Linked DNA regions of Homo sapiens: all the other regions are linked to region 2. Evidence: fine-mapped expression QTL. A gene starts in region 2. Each other region holds a variant in brackets. All regions are shown on one strand. Distances are from middle to middle.

Region 1 (5,455 bases), 230 kb after region 2:
TCAGAGTTCCACAGCATCTGCTGGATGATGAAGAAACACTTGGCTTGCCTCTGGCCAACAGAATGGGATGCATGGGCCTTGATGAGGGTCCCCTCAGGCTCACCTCTTGGTAATTTTTCACAGTCATTACTGCTCAGGCACCTTATTGTGAACTAGTTATATGTTGCTGTTAACAAATTATCTCAAAACTTAGTGGTTTGAAACAACAATAGTATTTATTATCTTTTACAGTCTTGTGGGTTAGGAATATGGTAGCAGTTTAGCTCGGTGGTTGTGAGGTGTGGCTCACAGTCTCTCATGAGGTTATACTCAAGATATCAGCTAGGGCTGCAATCATCTGGATACTTGACTGGGGCTGGAGGATCCTCTTTCAAAAAGCCTTGCTCACATGCTGTTGCAGGAGGCTTCATTCCTTGCTGATTGTTTCTCACCATGTGGACCTCTCCACATGGCTGCTTGAGTATCCTTATGACATGGCAGCTGGCTTCCCTGGAGTGAGTGATTCAAGAGAGTGAGAATGAGGAGAAAGCTTCAATACCTCTAATGACTAATCTAATCTCAGTGTAACATACAGTTACTTTTATCACAATCTATTTGTTAGATGTGAGTCACTGAGTTGAAGGGGTGAGAAATTTGGCTGTAAAACTTTTAAAGGGAATAGAGTCAAATAATTTGTTGGCACATTTTAAAACCAACACAAGCTCTGTGCTGCATTTAGGGCTTCTCTGAGATGCTTGTAGACTCTCTCAGTTGTGCCTGGGAATTGTGGTACAATCCTTGTTATTTTTAGATGCCTCTTTTACCTCTCCAGGTTTTCAAGCATCTCTCCTTACCTCCCTAGCTAGGCTCCTTCTCAGAGAGTTCAGGCAGCATTTATAATCTAGTTATGTTCTCTCCAAATCTTTTAGCTCCTTCCCTAAGCCCAGGGAAAGCTAGGTAATGGGCAACTGCTCTGACATCATAGCCAGTTTCTTTCCTACCCTCTGATTTATAAAACAAATTCCATGCTTGGTCTTCTCTCAACAAAACCCTTGCTCTTGAATTTCCTCCTTTCCAGGCTATTAGTTAGATATGGAATAAAACAACTTGCTTTTGAGAGTCAAAACTAAGGCTTGTCGGATTTGTTCCCTTACACTGCAGAGGGAAAAGGAAGTACTGAGAGGGAAAATACGTTGGGTAATATTGCAAAGCAAACTGGCTTTATACATGGCTAGATCCAGGTGCTTACATAATGTCATCAAGGATCCACATCTTTTTAATTCTCAGCTCTTATTTTTTGTTGGTTGACTTCATTCTCAGGAAGATTTTCTCCCTTTAGAGTGAGAATGAATTCTTGGCTTCTATTTCCAGCAGAGTAACTATTTCTCTTAATTCCATAAAGAATGTCAGAACTGACTCTTCTTGGACTGTTATGGGTCTCGTGCCATCTCTGAACCAACTATTGTGGCCAAGTATGGAGTTTTCTGCCTGGCCAGGCCTGAGTCGTGTGTCTACTGCTGGACCAGGGGTGGGGTAGCCCCACTCACTGTCCTCCACTGTGGAAACCCAGCTGAGCCCCTGAGGTGTTAAGGAACTCCTCCTCTCTTCAACAACGTTGACATTCCTTCCTTTCTCTCCTGGCTATGTCTTTCCTTCCAGTGAGCTGGGAGTTGTGCTGTAGAAGGTGAGAGGTGAGTGGGAGGGTTCCACTAAATTACATGCCTTTTAGAGTATAGATTTAAGAGGGTGGATGTCCATCAATATCCTCAAGGAGGTGAGATGGAAACCTCCTGCAGAGCTTTACACCCCTTGCGAAGAGGAGGTACATAGGGACAGAGCTCCCATTGCAGCAGCCAGCCCCTCATCTCCAGGGAGGCTGATGGAGAGCAGGCTCTGTCTGAATGTGTTCAGCTTTCCATCCAACCTCCTTAAAGCTGTCGTTCTTCTGGGTTCTGGGGATGGGTGGGTCAACTTCTCTCATCCTCCTCAGCCTCTCCTTTAGCAACTGAACTATTTTAGTTAAACTTTTTGCAGCTCTCAGAGTCCATCTGACACTTTGGAGGTTAAAACATTCAAACCTTAGACAACAAGACATGAGAAATTTTCATCTGCACATCTGGGCTTAGGGGCAAGTGCAGCTGGCTTTCCCTTTGGGAAGAAAAG[G/A]CTTCCTCCTGGGTCTGCAGCAATCACAAGTACTTTGAAATGGGACTGTTTTCCTCACAGCTGCTTCCTGAAACAACAAAAGGAGCTGAGCTCAGTCAACCTCTGGGGCATCAGGCCAGCCCTGCGGGGCAGGATAAAAAGTCAGAGAAGGATCCTGGCTGCTTCTTCAGCTTGGGCCAAGGCAGAGTGGGATGGGGGATTTGCTGGTGACAAGTGCCTCTGCCCCTTCCCAATGCCACCTGTGTGAATGTTCCCTGCTTCATTTTGTTGGAATAGATTTTTGTGACTTCTCTCAGGCTCTGAGATGTTACTTGCCAAATGCTATTCACATAACCATTTTACATATTTCTGTTACTGTATGGTAGAACCAATCAACTAACCAATTAATCGACCAACCAACCAAAATCCTAATTCTGGAGACACATTGGATAAAGGATCCTAGAAATCTCCCTTCCTTTTTATAAGATAGTCTGCTCTGACCTCAGGGTCTGGGGCCACAGGAACAGCATTCCTGAACCTCGATGTCTGTGGAGATGCCAGGTCTTCTCCAGGGGCTGCACCTTGTCTTCTTCTTTTTCCCTTCCACTAAGACTTTTAGATGCCCCCATCCCTAGTCTGACCCCTAACCAGACATCTGTTCCCAGTGGGACCTTTTGTAGGAGCTGAGAGACCTGGCCAGCCTCCAGCATCAGCTCCGTACCCTCCGTTGTTGGCCAGGACCTGCTGTGGAGAACAAGTGCCCTTGAGGTCTCTCTGCTCTTAGTTTCCAGGGCAGTGAATGAGAAATGCCCTCTTACATACTCTGACAGTGCTGGGGAGAGAAAGCTAAATAGATAGATAGATAGATAGATAGATAGATAGATAGATAATGATGTTAGTCTTTGGCCAGGCTGGACCTGAGAGGAACTGTTTAGCATGAGCAGCTCTTCTTGCACCACCAGAGGCTTCACCAGCCCAGCAATTCCATTTCCTACTCACTCAGAGGAAGGGCTACTGGCTGCAGTCTCTTGCCACTGTCTGGCTCTGTGCTGTAAAATGGCCACTGGGAGGCTTCTCCTGGGTCTGTTTTCCCCTGGCCCCAGCACAGGCCCTTCTGAAATTAATCTATGGAGAATGTATTTCTCCATCTCCACTGTGGCTGTGGCCCTTTCCCTACAGTCTACTCAGCCCCACATGAGTTGGGGGTAGTGGGAGGCTGGGCTCTGGGGAAGGGACCCAGGGAGATATGAGCAGGTGCTTGCAGGGAAGGTCAGCTTTCTCCAGCTCCTTTCTCATGGTAGACACTCAATTACAGGGCCTCCCAGGTGCTGGATAGCTCTGTGCTGGCAGAATGCTACTTCTCACACCCCTCCGCACAGCAGAGATGATGAGGGCTGGGCCTGATTTTCTCCCTGCACTCTGATATAATAAAGTTGTTGTCACTAGGACCTATTAAATCAGGCACTCATGGTAGTAAATGTGGAGATCAGGCAGCTTGGAAATCCTCAGGCACATGTGCATGTGGATGCGTGTGTGTGTCATGAAGACACAGGATAAAGTCTGTTGTCTGTGGCCCTGGGGGATTGAGGCAGTGATCACCAGAGCTGGCTTTATCTTTGCGTTCATGCGTCTTCTACCCACTCAGCTCACATTTCGTTATACCATTCAGCAGTTGGCAACCTGAGGGGTTCCTAGGGAGGGAGATGTAGGCTAGTCCATCTTCTCCTCCATGGATCAACATAGGCCAGACCCAGCTACAGGAGGCTGGACCACAACCAGCATGAAATTTTTGCTGAGTTTAGACAGAAGGTCACTACGTCACTGAGGTATCTCATTGAATACTTGATTAGATAGAGAAGGAGATGATGGAGAAGAAAGAAAGATGACAGGAGAGGATAAGGGGGTGGCCATGACAACAGAGGAAGAGAGAGGACTCAGAGGTTGTCCCCAAGGCTTAGACTCTAAATAATTAAGAGACAGCCCTGGGCTCAGTATCCAGGTTAGATCTGTGTAGGATCCCTGGGGCACTGAAGTTGAGGATGTAACTAGTGGCTTGAAGGTGGAGTTGAGAGGTTCAGGGTGCCTGGTGTGGATTGTGGGGATGAAGGTTACAACCAGGACCTTTTATGGACTGTTCACAGGACTCCACATCCAGGCAAAGGCCAGAGTATTGATTCTTAGATGAAATGCTGTTACACAGCATGGGGACTTCACTTTTTTGAGACTGAAGAACTTTGAGGGGAAATAAAATCTCTGAAGAGAAGCTAGGTTCCATCTACAGAGGTAGCATGGCTTAGTGCCTCTCATCCATTCTGTTGAAACAGCTCTTGTCAGTGACCTCTATGTTGCTAAATTCATTGATCTCAGATCACCACATACTTTGCCTCTCTGCAACATTTGTTTCAGTGGAAACACTTTCTTCACTGGTTTCCAGGACATGATTTGTCCTCCTCTTACCTCATTAGCCACAGCTCAGTCCCCTTGGCTGGCTTTGACTGTCACCTGATCTCTAAACATTGGCATACTGCAATCTTTGTCTTTGGGCCTCTTCTCCATGTAGGCTCACTCCTTAGTATGAATCTCAGGTTTTTGAATAGTGTCTAATGAATCCCAAGTTTCTGACTCCAGCCTGAATATTTTTCCTGAATTCTAGGCTTAAATATCAAACTACCTACCCAATGTTTGTATGTGGATGACTAATAGCCATCTAAACTTAACACACCCCATACCATTCTCTTGATTTCCATGGCCCCAAACTTGTTCCTTTGCTGGTTCTCCCAGTCTCAGCAAATGGCAGTGTAGTTTTCCCATTTGCTCAGGTCAAAATAAAAAACTTGGAGTCATCATTAACTCCCCCTGATCCATGAGCAGGAATGGTTGGATTTATCTCTAAAAGAAATCCATACATGCAATAAACCCATAATTAGGTATCTCACCATGTTCACTACAGCTACCATCTGGTACAAGTTAATGGCATCTTTGTCTGGATCATCATAAGGGCCTCCTTACTGGTTTTTCTGCCCTAACTCTTGCTCCCTTAGAATTTATTGTTCACTTGGTAGACGGAGCGATCCCTATAAAAACTTAAATCAATCATGCCACTCCTCTGCTCAAAGTCTTCCAATGGATTCTGGTTTCAGAATAAAAGCCAAAGATCTTATAAGATCTCAGGGGACCCTTGAGACCCCCAGTGATTTTGTCCTCACTTGTCTATATGACCTCACCTCCTGCCTGTCCTGCCCAAGTCACACTGGCTTCTCAGTATAGCGTGACAAACTTGCTTCTGCCCAGGGCCTTTTTGCTATTCCCCTGCTTGAAATGCCATGCCTCCAAA
Region 2 (5,000 bases):
TGACAGTGATCCATTCTAAAAATTAGTATGAACTAGTAACACCCCCTGTGTAATATACATATAAAATAAAATAAAAAATTTCAGGCCTGGCAACAGAGTGAGACTCTGTCTCAAAAAAAAAAAAAAAAAAAAAAAAAAAGGCCAGGCACGGGGGAGGGTGGCTCACACCTGTAATCCCAGCACTTTGGGAGGCAGAGGCGGGCGGATCACGAGGTCAGGAGATCGAGACCATCCTGGCTAACATGGTGAAACCCTGTCTCTACTAAAAATACAAAAAAATTAGCTGGGCGTGGTGGCAGGCGCCTGTAGTCCCAGCTACTCGGGAGGCTGAGGCAGGAGAATGGCATGAACCCGGGAGGCGAAGCTTGCAGTGAGCCGAGATGGCGCCACTGCACTCCAGCCTGGGCGACAGAGCGAGACTCTGTCTCAAAAAAAAAAAAAAAAAAAATCATAAAACAATATCCTTACCTAGCACTATATTATTTCCTATTTTCTCCCCCTCTCTCTTTCTTTTTTTTTTTTGCAGGGGGAGATGGAGTTTCACTCTTGTCGCCCAGGCTGGAGTGCAATGGCGCCATCTCAGCTCACTGCAATCTCCGCCTCCCAGGTTCAAGGGATTCTCCTGCCTTAGCCTCCGAGTAGCTGGGATTATAGGCGCCCACCACCACGCCCGGCTAGTTTTTGTATTGTTAGTAGAGGCGGGGTTTCACCATGTTGGCCAGGCTGGTCTTGAACTCCTCACCTTAGGTGATCCACCCACCTCGGCCTCCCAAAGTGCTGGGATTACAGGCGTGAGCCACTGGGCCCGGCCTTTTTTTTCAGGCAGGGTCTGGAGTGCAGTGGTGCCATCACTGCTCACCGCGGCTTCGACATCCCAGGATCAATCAATCCTCCCATCTCGGCCTCCCGAATAGCTGGGCCTACAGGCATGCGCCCAGACCCTTGGCTAATTTTTTGAATTTATTGTACAGGCAGGGTTTCGCCATGTTGCCCAGGATGGTCTCCAACTCCTGGGCTCAAGCGATCGGCCTGCCTCGGCCTTCCAAAGTGCTGGGATTACAGGCGTGAGCCACCGCGCCCAGCCTATTTTCTCTTTTTAATGGCGCCAGTGACCCATTCACCTATTAAATTGATGTTACGACTCTTATATAGGCCGCTACTCAACGTTAAAAAAAATCATCTTTAACATACTATTTTAATACTAGACCTCAAATCTTAGCTAAGAAGTAGTTTGGAAGGACTGGGGAAGAGAAGGTTAAGAATGACTATTATGTACGGTAAATATGCTAAGAAGCTGATGAAATAACGATAGATTTACTTAGCTACAAAAAGGCCAAACTAGCATTAGACTTCACTTGTCAGCAGTTTTGTTTTTTTGAGGGGGGCGTGGGGGGGGGGGTCTCTGTCTGTCTGAAGGCACAAAAGAGGAAACAGCAGATAGGACTAACGAGGGCTGGAAATTGGTGAAGAACCACCACGGGAGTTGAGAGATGCAGATGAAGGAAACCATGGCTAGTAGCAAGAACTAGGGCAGCGGTAACTAACCTGCCTCAGCCAAGGAAGTGAGGCTGGTCCAGGATGCCAGGCTCAGAAAGGCAGGTACTGACTGAACACACTCCCCGCTTTGGTTCCTGTAGGACGGGTGAGATACCACACCTTGGCAACCACCAGTAAAGGCTCATAGTCTAGCCCTTGGGAGGCCCCGATTTTAGGGCTGTGCTCGGAGGCGACCTACGTTAGGGACTGGGAGAAGCAGGTACCCTGGGAATGAAGAATGGAGAGCAGCGCTTACTCCAAGAATCTGAGAGACGGGGGAGTCAAGCCGCTGCTAGGCCTTCTCTATGACTGCGGGGGTTCGAATACAGTGAGACCCGACAAAAGCGACCCCATTCTGGGTGATAGCACAGTCCTGGCAAAAAAGCAGGCATGGCAAAATACCCCAGGGTCGTCAGGTGGGACCTGGGCCCCGCTCTCAAAGCCCTTCTGGGTCCCCCTATTTCCCACCACCCCTCGCGCGGAGCCCTGAGGCAGTCAGCGTCCTCCAGGCTAGGGAAAGGCGTGGTTTTCCTTCCCCACGTCTCCCGTAAGGCACTGCTGCCAGCCCAGTACTACTGCGTCTTGGCAAGGCTGGAGGTGCTCCCACCTTCACTTTAATTAGCATCTTCTTTCCAGTTTGGGGCTGCACACGGATAAATTGCTGCTCCTACCGCTCCGGTCGCCGCTGCCGCCCTCCAGCACTCTTGCCTGCAAGGGCCACTTCTACTTCCGGGTCACTGTCTGGCTCCACCCCCCCCCCCCCCCCCACTGGGTTCCGGAAAGGCTCAGGGTTGCTCCCGCGTTTCGGTTCAGTGACGTCGTAAATTGGAATGAGGCATCCAGTTTAGCAACAGCAGAGATGACGACTCTGCGATTCTGAGAGTCCCTGGCGAGCCCGGGCTAGCGAAAAGTGGGGGCAGAACGAACTACATCTCCCATCGTGCCAGGAGGCGGTCCCGCCCGTTTCCCCCTGGGAGTTGTAGTCTAACCCCCTCGGATCCAACAGCAACCTCAGTGCGTGAACTCTGTTATCCAGAAGGCCTCGCCCTGCCGCCGCCGAAGCTGGAATTCGTCGGCTAGTAGTTCTCGCCGGCAACTAGAGGAACCTGTTGGCGTGGCCCAGAAGGCTTAGCGGGATTGCACGAGGTTAGTTGCTAAGCAAGGTGGTCTTTGGTCAACTGCCGCCTGGACCAAGGCAACAGGAAGTGAGTACCTCTATTCCGGAAACTAGTTATGAACCCTCCCCGCCCCCCGTCGCCAACATTCCTTCGTTCCCCTAAATCAGCCTCTTGCCCCATTGCTCTTTGCAGGGGTAGAAGAAGGAAGTGTAGCGGGGTAAGGAATGCACCGTCAGGGTCTCTCACAACCCTTTCCCAGCTCTCCTCCCCAACAAACAGTACCTGGGATGGAGCCCTAGGGTAATCGCAGCCACGGGATGGGTCGAGGTGACAGGCTTCAGGGACCACACTTCGGCCTTTGCCCGACCTTCCACAACTTAAGCGAAGAGAGGCCACCAGCCGTAACAGGGCGTTAAAGCCCAGGGGAAGATTGGTCCTTATGACTTCCTGCCTTCCAGCCCTCAGATTCATCGCTACCCCGAGGCTAAGCGCCATGCCTCATATTGACAACGATGTGAAACTGGACTTCAAGGATGTCCTTTTGAGGCCCAAACGCAGTACCCTTAAGTCTCGAAGTGAGGTGAGCAAGCTTCTCTACTTGCTGTTTCTTGACCCCACGCTCCCGGTGGGCCACAACCAAGAAAGATGCCTGTCCTTGTCCTAATATGGTACGTTTTTTGGATTAATGAAATGGTCAATTTCCTGTTCATATCTGCAGGTGGATCTCACAAGATCCTTTTCATTTCGGAACTCAAAGCAGACATACTCTGGGGTTCCCATCATTGCTGCCAATATGGATACTGTGGGCACCTTTGAGATGGCCAAGGTTCTCTGTAAGGTAGGGCTTTCCTCATGCCCCATCCCTATTGGTGTCCAGTTAGCCCAGCTGACTGCAGAGGTGTTTGCATCCCCACCCCCATGCCCAGTCAGTTCTCTGGCAGTTAGCAGTCAGGATGCTCTGATTTACGGTTTTTTCCACTACTGAAGCCCTTTATCTGATAAGTTCAAAAGGCCATCTGAATTAGTGAGATTCAAAGCTAAGTTCTGCTCCGATATTTCTGATATATGAACAGAATTTTCCCTTTTGTCCTGTTTAGCAGTTTGTACACCTTGCCAACTTTTCCCACCACCCAGGTCACCCCCTCACAGTCACATGCATCCCTTCAGTTATGCGATTGTCCACATTAAGCATTCACTGTTTTAGTCCAGAAACTACAGTTTAAGCATTCAAAAATCCTAACTAGAAGATCCTAGGAGAAGCAGCTTATTAATTTTCTTTAATAAGAACAATTCATTAATAAAAGAATACTTCTGCCATTCTTTTTTTAATCTTCCTCTTCTTTAAGTCCTAGGTTCCTGGGAGTTTCTGGGATGTGCCCCAAATGGGATGTGTTTTTCTTATATACAAGTTGTTCACTTTGAAATGGAAGATGCTGCTCCTGTCAGTACTATTACCTGCCTCTATACTTGTTGCTGAGAAGGTAGAGAGTTATCTGGGCACTTTGAGAACATATGCACTCTGCTGGTTGATCCATGTAGCCCTGGTTGATGAATTCTGCTATTGTTTGTGGCTCCATTAGTCTTAAGGACTTCATATCCTTTTTCTATTTTTGATTGCTGTGTCTTTGTGGAATGTCTTGTCATTTCTTTAAGGTTGATAGTTATGCAGTTTTATTTTTACTTTATTTTTATTGCCATTCAGTAACTGCTTAGGAATCTTTCTGTTGCCCACTGTCCATCTGCCCTGACCAGTAGAGTTCAGAATTGGTGACTCTGACTGCAGAGTTAACAGGCGTGCTGTAATACATGAACCTTTTTGGGGACTGTCTTGATGCTTTATGTGGAGCCTGGCTTTCAGTATTGCTGACGAGAGGTAAAGAAATCAGGTTTTAGAGATAAGAGCCAAGTCTTACTGTAATAAAAAGGTTGGATGCAAGCAAACATCTTTTTCTAAGTTTGGTATGTAATCTGATGTGCTCATCATGCCACACTCTGCCAGTATATCTCCAACATCTGCTGACTTCCTATCCTATGGTGACTTTTCTTTGCTTATCAGTATGTTGATGATAGAGTTGTTGAGAAAGCAGAATTCAATACCAGCTTTAGCTAGATATTGTTGATCTCTGAGTACGTATGTAGAGCACTTGTTGCTAGCTAATACATGACTTCCTTGGGTTTCTTGTTAGTTGCAAGATTTGTGCTGTTTCAGCCAACTGCTGTCTCTTGTCTGTTTGCATGTAGACATGTAAGGCACAAACACCAGCATACACAATGGCCTTTGAATGCCTTCCTCAAAGTATTGGGATATTGTTTGCAATCTGTTGAGCTAGAGAATATGAGTTTGAT
Region 3 (5,376 bases), 170 kb before region 2:
CAGTGGGGTTGGAGAGCAGGTGTGGATGAGAGGGAGGTGGGGGGCAGCCCTGGGACAGGATACCCATTAGTGGTGAGAGGCCCGGGGGGTAGTGTTCCCTGTCACTGTCCTGCAGACTGCCCAGGGTCTGTCCAGGAGGAGCCAGGTCACTTGGAGAAGCTGAGAGGAGTTGCAGGGGAGGTGCCTGGGAAGAAACATCAGTCTGCGGGAAAGGCTGCTGGAGGATTACAACGGGACAGGAAAGGCAAGGGCATCATCTCCCTGAGAACTAAGTGGAAAGGGCTGCAGTGCAGCAGGGGAGACCAGATGAGAGGAAAGCAGGTTTATCAGACCCAGGATTGAGCTTGCATCTGGCATTTGTTGCTAACTTACCCCGATTCTCCCCAGCTACCCCCGGACTCTGAGGACCGTGCGGCCAGGACTCTCGGAGGCACCGCTGCCTCCACTCCAGAAGAAGAGGCGCCGGGGCCTGTTTCACTTTCGCCGGCCCCGGAGCTTCAAGGGGGACAGGGGGCCGGGGTCCCCTACCACTGGACTCCTCCTCCCTCCACCCCCACCCCCTCCCCCGACTCAGGAGAGCCCCCCTAGCCCAGACCCCCCAAGCCTCGGCAATAACTCCTCTCCCTGCTGGAGCCCAGAGGAGGAGAGCAGCCTCCTCCCTGGATTTGGTGGGGGCCGGGGACCTTCCTTCCGCCGGAAGATGGTAAGTGAGGCAGGGGGTGCTGTGTCTTCCCCTTTTCCTGCCCCACACTTAACCCAGTCTCCTACCCCACCCCAAGCTTAATGGGAGAATGCTAGGACCCAGGGTTCTTGGGAACATTGGTCATTTCAATTCTCCTCTCCTTGAGAGTGGACTAAGACCCAGTGGCCAAGAGCATGCTGGGAGTGCTATATGCGAATGCAGGCGTTGGAAGGACTCTTCAGAGGGTCTCTGCAGGGCTTCCCCGTGGCTAGGGACTCAGTGAGGCAGGGGTCCTCCTGACAACTCCCTCACAGCCTGGGGAGCCCCCTTCGACTGGGAACTGCTAATAAATAAGAGACCTTGTTCTAGGGCACTGAGGGGTCAGAGCCAGGGGAGGGGGGCCCAGCCCCTGGGACAGCACAGCAGCCAAGGGTTCACGGTGTTGCCCTTCCCGGGTTGGAAAGAGCCAAGGGTTGGAGCTTCGATGGGAAACGAGAGGTGAGTGGAGCCTGGGACAACAAACTGTGGGTCCTGAGGGTATCTGTCCACCACCCTCTCCTTCCCACTCCCTCATCCCTGGTGGTTCAGTAGAGAAAGCAGATGCTTTGGCATTAGAAGATGTTAGCTGCTCTTCAGCCCCCACCACACACTTGCCGTGGAGCCCTGGACTGGTCACTTCACCTCCTGAAACCTCTCCTTCTTTACTGTAAAATGAGGGGTTATAAAAATACTTACCTCTAGAGCTCTGTTTCCCAAACAATGGTGACTTGATTATAACCTTTGCGACTGATTTTTACCTGAATTATTACTTACATAGTATTTTTATTTAAATTAACTCACCTTTTTTTAACTTAGGCTAGACCTAGACATTATCTTTAAAATCGCAGGCTTTTTGAATGAGTCGTGTTTTTTTCTACTACATGTAAAATACATATGTAACTATAAAGATGGAAGTATACTCATTTGTGTAAGCCATTTCTTGTGCCCCTGGGGAGGTATGGGTGCCACTCTTTGGGAAACAGTTTTAAGTGTCTAGGGACTAATGACATGAGAATGACATGGAGATGCTAGAGCAGAAGCCCTTTGTCAGCTGCAGTCCTGCCACAGAGGAGACTTTCTTACAACCTGACCCACTGTTCTTTCAGGGCCCAGGCCCAGACCAGGAGGGCAGCACCCAGGCCTGGCAGAAACGGCGCTCTTCAGACGACGCAGGTAAGAACAGTCACATTCAAAGCCCTTTTGGACCCCTCTCTCAGGGGTCAAATTTACCTTTTCCCTTTCTCCTCTCTTTCTCATCCCCTCTCTCTACTCCAGGGCCTGGATCCTGGAAGCCCCCACCACCGCCCCAAAGCACCAAACCAAGCTTCAGCGCCATGCGCAGAGCAGAGGCCACATGGCACATAGGTATGGAAAGCCTCTTTTCAGGCAGCAGTACTGAAAGCCCAGGGTGTGTCCAAAGAAACAGAAGCCCATGGCCCCTGTGCTGGGGAATTTATGGCCAAGGTGGGGCAGTGAGAAGTCAACACAGTGAAAATGTTTAAGGATATTTACAAAGCTATATCCAAAAGAGACAAACAACCCAATCCAAAGAAAGCTTCTACAGAACAAAAGCGGCTTCTCCAGTGTTGGCAAACAGGAGCGATGCTTTGTGGATGGCTCTGGCGAATTCTCCAGGGCAGGTGCAGCCTCTGGTCACCATTGGCACAGTGGCAGCCTCTGTAGACAAGGCTCCTCTCTGCACCTTGCTGGGAAGAGGGTGGGCAAGTCAAACTGCCAGCAAGTACCAGCTGTGCCAGGCCCACCTCAGATTCCAGCCTCCTCCAGAAGTCGTTTATCAACTCACCCTCAGCTCACGCAGAAAGGTGCCCCAAACATGGGCAAGAGCTCGCCTCGGAGGTCAGAAACCTGCAGTATTAGTCCTTCTCAGCCACCCGCGACCTTAAACAAGTCATTTACTTTCTGGCCCCATGACCGGAGGAGTAAAAGGGAGGGGATTATCCCAGGCATGACACTTCCTTTCTGCTGGCTTCAGAGCACCTTCCGCTTAGGGAGCCACTAAAGAAAAGCTGGTCAGCTCAGCATTCGCTCAGTCCAGCAGTTGCCAAAGGCCTGGACCATGACCCTCCAGCAATATTGACATAGACAAAATCTCTCTGTAGATGGAGACACCCCCTCAGCCTCTTTCACTCCCACCACCAGGCTAGGGCGTAAGGGCTGGAAAGAGCTAAGAGCTGAGCGGGCTGGTCTGGCTTGAGCCACATGCTCCCCACTGTCCTATCCCACCCATT[C/G]TGCATCTGCCCCTCTCTCCCCTGTAGTGCAGAATCAGGCTAGCCTGAGACTTGGAGTGCCTGTGTCCTTGCCTCCTCCTCCAAGGCCAACCCAGCACTGGGGGCATCTTTGCTGATTTTTTCCATCCCATACACAGGCTAATTAAAGCGCCCCAAAGTAGGGCTCCATCTTTCATTTAGGAAACCGCAATAGTCAGTTGCCCCACTGCACACACACCTCACAGATCCACATGCAGACAACACTTTCCAGTGTCAGAGCCACAGGCTCATGTTGCTTAAAGGCCACTGGGGCGGAGGATGAGTGTGCCAGGGCACCCCTCCATCTAAATCAGACTTTCAGACAGAGTTCTGGGAATGCCAGGCTGCAGCCTTGGCAGAGCCCCCAGGGCACTGCAGCCTGGATGGGCAGCATGCCTGTGGACCCAGCAGGCCCTGGGCCCTGCCCCAGCAGGAAAGGGGTTGGGCACTGCTCTGCAAGAGGGACAGCTAGGCCAGAGTCCCCTCCAGAGGTGATGGCCTCAGGATGATCCTGGGAAACAAGGGCTAAGGAGCGTGGATGTAGAAAGGCATATGAAAGACCGGGTGCGGTGGCTCATGCCTGTAATCCCAACACTTTGGGAGACCGAGGTAGGTGGATCACTAGGTCAAGAGATCGAGACAATCCTGGCCAACACGGTGAAACCCTGTCTCTACTAAAAATACAAAAATTAGCTGGGCGTGGTGGCACGCACCTGTAGTCCCAGTTGTTCGGGAGGCTGAGACAGGAGAATCGCTCAAACCCGAGAGGTGGAGGTTGCAGTGAGCCAAGATTGCACCACTGTACTCCAGCCTGGGTGACAGAGCAAAACTCCATCTCCAAAAAAAAAAAAAGAAAGAAAGAAAGAAAAGAAAAAAAAAAGGCACATGAAAGGCAGAGACATAGGAGCAAGTGGGCTTGGAGGGAGAAAGTCCTGGCCTCCAGGGCTTCAGTGGAGAGAGGAGACAGGGACAGGAGCTATGCAAGAATGCCTTTTCCTGCAGCTTCTCCTCTCTCTCATCCCCAGCTGAAGAGAGTGCCCCCAACCACAGCTGCCAGAGTCCCAGCCCAGCCTCCCAAGATGGGGAAGAGGAGAAGGAGGGGACCCTCTTCCCAGAGAGGACACTTCCAGCTAGGAATGCCAAGGTGAGAGCTGGCAAGATGGGTGGGGGAGGCACTTTGATGAGGCAAAGGGACTAACTGACCCAGCATCTTCCTTCCTCTGCCAGCTACAGGACCCCGCTCTAGCTCCATGGCCTCCCAAGCCAGTGGCTGTGCCCAGGGGCCGCCAGCCTCCCCAGGAGCCAGGGGTCAGGGAGGAGGCTGAGGCTGGAGATGCAGCTCCAGGAGTCAACAAACCCCGGCTGAGGCTGAGCTCACAGCAAGACCAAGAGGAGCCCGAAGTCCAAGGTCTGCCACCCTGGCTGAGTGGGGGGCTCAGGGCACCTCTAGGACTTTGCTGTCCACATCAGGTCCTCTTCCAGAGCATGGAATGAGTGACAACCAGGAGTCACAGCCTGGATGAGCATCCCAGCATGAGCCCCACTCCTGTGTTAGGCCTGCCTTGATTGTTATTTCAGGGCCCCCTGATCCAGGCCGGCGGACTGCCCCCCTGAAGCCCAAGAGGACACGGCGGGCACAGTCCTGTGACAAGCTGGAACCTGATAGAAGACGGCCTCCTGACCCCACAGGTGCTGGTGGTGAGAGGGCAGGTCCCCCCTTCCCACCTATCTGTCCAACATGACACCCCCCGAAGCCCCAACACCAGGTGGCTGGCTGTCCCTGCCCAGGAAACAGGGCTCCCTGGATTTGTCCCCAGCAGGAACCAGTGAGCCAGGAACAGACTGACAACTGCCACAACACCCTCCTCAGCCCTCGACATGTGCCTCGCAAGGACTCAGACCCCTATCCACCCCCAGTCCCCAGGGCCCCCTGCCAGCCCCTGTCCTACAGGGGCAAGACGGCAGGACCAGGCATGGGGGAGCTGGAGGCAGGGACTAGAACAGAGGGAGCCACCTGGAGAGACGGAGGCTGTCAGTGCCTGCCTCGATACCTCTCTCTGCAGAGAGCTTCTGGGTGGGGGCTTATCTCCTCCCCCAGGAGGGTGGATCTCTGTCCCTCTATCCCCAGGGACTCTCTCCCCTCTTGTATAGAATAAAAAAACAAAATCATCGCCTGCCTCGAGTCTCTGCTATCTTCCCCATTCACTGCCTCCACAATCTGCTCTCTTCCCACAAACCCTCAGAGCTTGGCCACAGTGGAGAAAAATGAGAAACATTCCACAGGGATAGACTTGGGGTTCTGAGAGGAGCAGGAGAAAAAAACAGAGAACTGCCGAGGGAAGGGGACTGATAAGTCCCCAAGCCAAGATGGGTGTTATGCCCAGGGTC
Region 4 (5,000 bases), 23 kb after region 2:
GGGGCTATTGCTATCCCTGCTTTACAGGTGAGAACACTGAGGCTTGAAGGAGAGAAGTCGCTTGCCCAAGGGCATATAGCCAGTAAGTGCTAGAGCTGAACCCGTATCATTAGGATTCCAAAACTTCGCTTGTGTGTGTGTGTCTCTGTGTGTGTGTGTGTGTCTGTGTGTGTGTGTGACAGAGAGAGAGAGAGACACACGGGGTCTCACTCTGTCGCCCAGGCTGGAGTGCAGTGGCACAAACATGGCTCACTTCAGCCTCAACCTCTCCAGGCTCAGGTGATCCTCCCACCTTAGACTCCCAAGTAGCTGGGACAACAGGCGCACAGCACCAAACCTGGTTAATTTTTTAAAAATTTTTTGTAGAAACAGGGTTTCATCATGTTGCCCAGGCTGGTCTCCAACTCCTGGGCTCAAGTGATCCACTCACCTTGGCCTGCCAAAGTGCTGGGATTACAGGTGTGAGCCACCACACCTGGCCTTCTAATGTACTTAAATTAGAGTTTTTGTGTCCAAAGGAGATAATATTCCTGAAAGGGCCTGGTCAATTCTTCAGTGCTGGGCAAATATTAGCAATGAGTTACTAATGATTCCTATGTGGGCCTTCTGCTCCCTAATTAGATAGTGAGGCAGGGCAAGGACATGGCATAGCACCAGGTGCCCAAGAGGTCTCCCTAAAGGCTGGTGGGACTGAGCTGGGCCGGGAGGTATTGCTAGCTGGCCCCAACCTGCTTGGTTGGGTCCTGACAGAACATACTTGTCCAGACAGAGAGGGAGCAAAGCTGGGAGCCAGGGCAGCCTGTGGGGAAGGCCAGAGTGGAAGCAGGGGTAGGGGGAGAGGCCAGACTCACCCAACGTTGAGGATCTTGGGCCTCTGTAACCCAGAGCCTTCGAGCCGGAAGACGACATTGGTGAGGGTGACGGGAAGGGGGTTCTTGAAGACAATCTGTACTTCACACTCCTGGCCAACCACTGCTGCTCCCAGTAACTGAGAGAAAAAGAGGCCCATCCCCCACGTCAGAGACCCTGGCCAAACACACGGGGACCGTACACTGCACCAGAGAGGGGAAGCTGCTTAGAAGCAAAACCTCCCCGAGTCCCACATTTATCCTCCTGAGAGAAGATTCCCCAGAAGTCAGAGAAGAAACTCCAACCTATTCCTCAATAAAGGCTGTCACAGAACCAGAGACATAAGATCCCATGCTACAGATGAGGAAACTGAGGCCCCAGAGCCGGTCCTTGACCTTCTCCTACAAAGGCTCATCAGGCCAGCCTGCTGCTGGCTTAGCGCCCACCTCTGATGTCCTTATCCCCTGGCCTTCACTCTCTGACCACCCCTCATGCCCCAGCAAACTGCATTCACCGTGAGGGAGAGGTCTGGGGTGCGCAGACGGAAGGTGTGCTGCTTGGCCAGCACCTGCCCGCTCTCCTTGACGTGGCCTGAGACATTGAGCAGCATGGCCCCCTGGTCCACAAGATGGGGCCGGTATTCCTTGTAGGCCACTGGCATGGTCACACGGTCCGCTGTGGAGAAGAGGCATGGCGTCACTGAGGCCTGCTTCCCTACATGAGGCTTCCCCCAGGGACTCCCCACTGCTCCTGGGGTCTCCATGTCCACAGCCCTGAGGTGCCCAGCCATCCAGGGGGCAGGGCTGGGTAAGGAGCACTTACAGGCCCCTGGTGCCAGCTCCACTTCCTTCTTGGTCTCCTTGAAGATGGTACCACTGACACCAGTATAGAAAGTGACTGAGAGGTAGAGGTGCAGTTTCACTGTGCGGCGGCTGCTGCTGTGATTGATCAGCATCACAGAGACCATCAGATCCTGCCCCATCACCGCGTCCTGTGCCTCCACCTGCATGGCCACATCCTCCGCTGAGCCCCGGTTGGCATACACATTGGGTTTGCTGCCGTGGGCTGCTGCTGTCTCTACTGCCTTCCGCTCTGCGTCTGAGCCTGGGGGTTGAGGGTCAAGGGTGAGGTTCCAATTCCCACGTGGGTGGCCAAGCACTTGGCAGGAACACTTGTTGTGGGGCCCAGAGCTGGCTGGGTTGGGGGAATGGTACCTTCTGGGTGCTTATAGAGGTAGGTGATGTCCTCCCGCATGTTGGAGCTGATGGCCTTTGTGACAATGAGTGTGCCGATGGCCTTCTCCTCCACATAAACAATCTTGAAGCTGCCATCATCCTGCCGCTGCCAGTACACCTTGTCACTATTCACCTGTGGGGGGTGGGGGTGAGCAGGAATGAGTGAGCCAGAGGGTCTGAGGGTGGCCTGACTCCCGGCCTCCTTCCCCTGATCCCAGGAGCTATGGGACAGGGCTTGGTCCCAAGGGTGGGAGCTTCCTGGCAGAGCCCAAGGGGAGACTTTCCAAGACGAGCCAGACGAGGCCAGAGTGCAGGGAAGAAGCTGGTCTGGGAGGCTCCTGGCAGAGCACTTTGGCAATATCAGTAATCCCTCACACTCAATGGCTGACTTTACGACTAGTGAAGCAGTTTCATACCCGTTATCTCTTCTGATCCCGAGTATAGGAAGCAAGGCAGCCTTGATTATCCCCTTTTACAGGTGAGGAAACTGACTTGTATAATGAGTGACTTGCCCCGGGTCGCAGAGCTGGTCAGTCAGCGGTGAAGTTGGGACCAGAGAACCCATGACTGAAGCCCAAGAAGGCACCTGGAGCCCAGCCCTCACCTCAGCAAAAATGAAAGGCGTGTCGTACTTCATGTAGACCAGGCCATTCTTGATGGACTCCACAGAGCAGGGGCCGCAGCAGAAGATGCCTAGAGAGTGAGGCGGGACAGAGGCAAGAGATCTGAGAAGGCGGAGAGGGCTCTTCAGACCCTGGGTAAGGTCCACACAGGGCCCCAGCCCCACCCACTCAGGCCCGGTCCCACTGCCTGGTGGCCTCTGGAACAAGGTCATCAGCCCTGACCCAAACACTTGGGGGTCAGTTGACAGCCAGTGCAACACAGGTATGGAAAACAAAGAGAGAGCGGCTCCATTTGGCTCTCAATCTGCTTTCCTCAGCCCAGGCTGCTCTGCTGGAGGATGG[G/C]GGCAGGGTACAGATGTGCGGACCAGCCTGCCTGATAACCAAGTCCCTGACATACTCTTTCATGGCTGGCTGACACTGGATGTCCACCATCTGTGACCCCCAGAGGACAGGACGCCCCATCCTTTATCATAACCAACCCAGAGTCCACAGTGGCCCTGCCTGCTGGCTGGGAGAGCGAGGACACCACCGCCACCACCATTCCAGAGAGATGCGGAACAACCCTCAGCTCTGCAGCCTGCTGCCCTTTCTACTGGGGGGAGCTGGTGGGAAATAGAGTCTGCCCTTATCATACTCAGGAGGCTGTCTAGAAGAGATAGGCTGACAGGAAGAGGCCTGGCAAGAGAGGACAGAGTGGTAAGTGAGTACCATCCAACCGGAAAGAATCTTAGACAAGACATAACACTACACACTCCTTTACAGACGGGGAAACAGCAAGGTGAAGTTCATGCCAGGATCTCACAAGACAGGTGGTGCAGGGAGAATGAAAGGAGCTCAGACTTTTTGAGTAGCTGCTACACTCCCGGCATGCTGCTGGTCCCTTCAGATACAGAATTTCTCATTTAATCCTCCCAATCACCATATATGGTATCTATTACCCCAAATTACATCCAAACCACCAAAGCCTAAAAGTTCGAGGTGCTTGCCCAAGAGCATACATCTGAGAAGTGATCAGGCTGGGATCAAGCCCCAGTCTGGCTGGCCCTGAGCCCCCTGCCTGATGTCCACCCCACCACTTCCCAGAGTTGGGGGCCAGAGCTCAGATCTGCCAGCGTCTGGGACAGGCTGTTTCAGCATCACAGGCATCACCGGGTTGCACAGCTCATGGGGCTGTGTTCACATATCTGAGTGAGAGGGAGGGCACTGGGAAGAGGCCAGGGGAGGAATGTAGGCTAGGGAGGACTCTCTGACCTGGGGTAAGGGAGAGGCTGGACAGAAGGTAGCTGGCAGGGCAGGCCTGGTGGCCTGGGGCTGGGGTATCACGGTAAGAAGGGGTGGGGGTTTGTTTGAGAACAGAGTGTATGGTAGTTCTAATTTCTGCAGAAACACATGTATGTGGACACAGAAAAGAGACCCGTTGGTTATATTAACAGTAATTATATATTAAGGCAGGGTCATAAGGGCTATTTTCTTCTTTGAACCTATCTGAGCCCTGATTTTTTTCTATGCTGTATATATAACTCACAGTGAGCAATGGAACAGACAGGAAGGAACTCGTTGAAAGCAAGAGTATGTGCTTAAAAGGACTGGACTTGCTCTGTCACTGACCTACCACTCTGTGCCCCAGAGGAGGTCACTCCATCTCTCTGGCCACCCTTTGGAGTGGGTCAAAAAATCCGGCTGATCGTCAGAATCACCAGAAGAACTTTCAAAAATATACATTGTTAGCATCTATCCTGGGAAAGTCTAATGTATCAGGTTTGGAGTAGAACCTAGAAATTTACTTTAAAAATATTTTTGAAAAAAAACCCAAATACCTCCTGAGAGAGAATAGGGAAGCTTTACATTTTGTGTTGTTCAATTCTATACTTTTTTTTTCCTTCCAAGCATGTATTACTTATAAAAATGACTTTAAAATGGTCCTTCAGTTAATTATCTCCAGGATATGTAAGTTAAAAAGCAAGTAAGAATAGTGAATATGAATTCTTTCTCTGAATACTCTTCCAGCTTTTGAATTTTGAACCTCCCTTGTATATTAACCATTATAAATAAAATAAACCATTATAAATAAGTAAAATGTAGGCAAATAGAGAGTTATATAGAATGGTAAAAATAAACTAACATCCACGTGGTGGTTCAGCTGACAAACCCGTTTAAGAAGCCGCGGGGTTACATGGCTTGGCTCTCCGGCCCGGCCCAGCACTGACACTCTGGACTGTGTTAATCAGGTGGGGGAGATAAGCAGGGGCATGGTGGGGAGTGGGGGGCCCAGCTTACCACTGCTAGTCTCTTG

The links. PIP is the estimated chance that this variant, and not a neighbour inherited with it, causes the effect.
Region 1: its variant is the best candidate, but not a certain one, in a credible set for the expression of GMPR2 in whole blood (INTERVAL, PIP 0.73).
Region 3: its variant is the best candidate, but not a certain one, in a credible set for the expression of GMPR2 in whole blood (TOPMed, PIP 0.74).
Region 4: its variant is the best candidate, but not a certain one, in a credible set for the expression of GMPR2 in whole blood (TOPMed, PIP 0.68).

What each region holds. Positions count from the first base shown.
Region 1 is chr14:24,456,693-24,462,147 of GRCh38, forward strand. All of the region lies in intron 2 of LOC101927045 (a long non-coding RNA gene), which reads left to right. Among named protein-coding and RNA genes, the nearest start is that of SDR39U1, 17 kb to the left of the region's middle. The variant G/A (reference allele first, on the strand shown) is at 2,143.
Region 2 is chr14:24,230,107-24,235,106 of GRCh38, forward strand. GMPR2 (guanosine monophosphate reductase 2) reads left to right here and starts at 2,823. Exons shown (of 10, transcript NM_001002002.3): 1 at 2,823-2,871; 2 at 3,113-3,234; 3 at 3,373-3,492. The coding sequence starts at 3,148. It overlaps NEDD8-MDP1 (NEDD8-MDP1 readthrough), which reads right to left and starts at 2,261. Exons shown (of 7, transcript NM_001199823.3): 1 at 2,144-2,261. The coding sequence starts at 2,161. NEDD8 (NEDD8 ubiquitin like modifier) reads right to left here and starts at 2,261. Exons shown (of 4, transcript NM_006156.3): 1 at 2,144-2,261. The coding sequence starts at 2,161. RefSeq lists enhancers at 2,125-2,990, 2,157-2,451.
Region 3 is chr14:24,064,571-24,069,946 of GRCh38, forward strand. CARMIL3 (capping protein regulator and myosin 1 linker 3) reads left to right here. Exons shown (of 40, transcript NM_138360.4): 33 at 388-703; 34 at 1,052-1,180; 35 at 1,828-1,894; 36 at 1,997-2,086; 37 at 4,014-4,132; 38 at 4,216-4,396; 39 at 4,567-4,677; 40 at 4,809-5,159. The coding sequence ends at 4,834. LOC105370412 (a long non-coding RNA gene) reads right to left here and starts at 3,619. Exons shown (of 2, transcript XR_943619.2): 1 at 2,526-3,619; 2 at 2,214-2,427. The variant C/G (reference allele first, on the strand shown) is at 2,971.
Region 4 is chr14:24,253,301-24,258,300 of GRCh38, forward strand. It overlaps TGM1 (transglutaminase 1), which reads right to left. Exons shown (of 15, transcript NM_000359.3): 9 at 4,985-5,000; 10 at 2,689-2,777; 11 at 2,064-2,217; 12 at 1,672-1,953; 13 at 1,364-1,524; 14 at 852-988. Among named protein-coding and RNA genes, the nearest start is that of TGM1, 7.4 kb to the right of the region's middle. The variant G/C (reference allele first, on the strand shown) is at 3,050.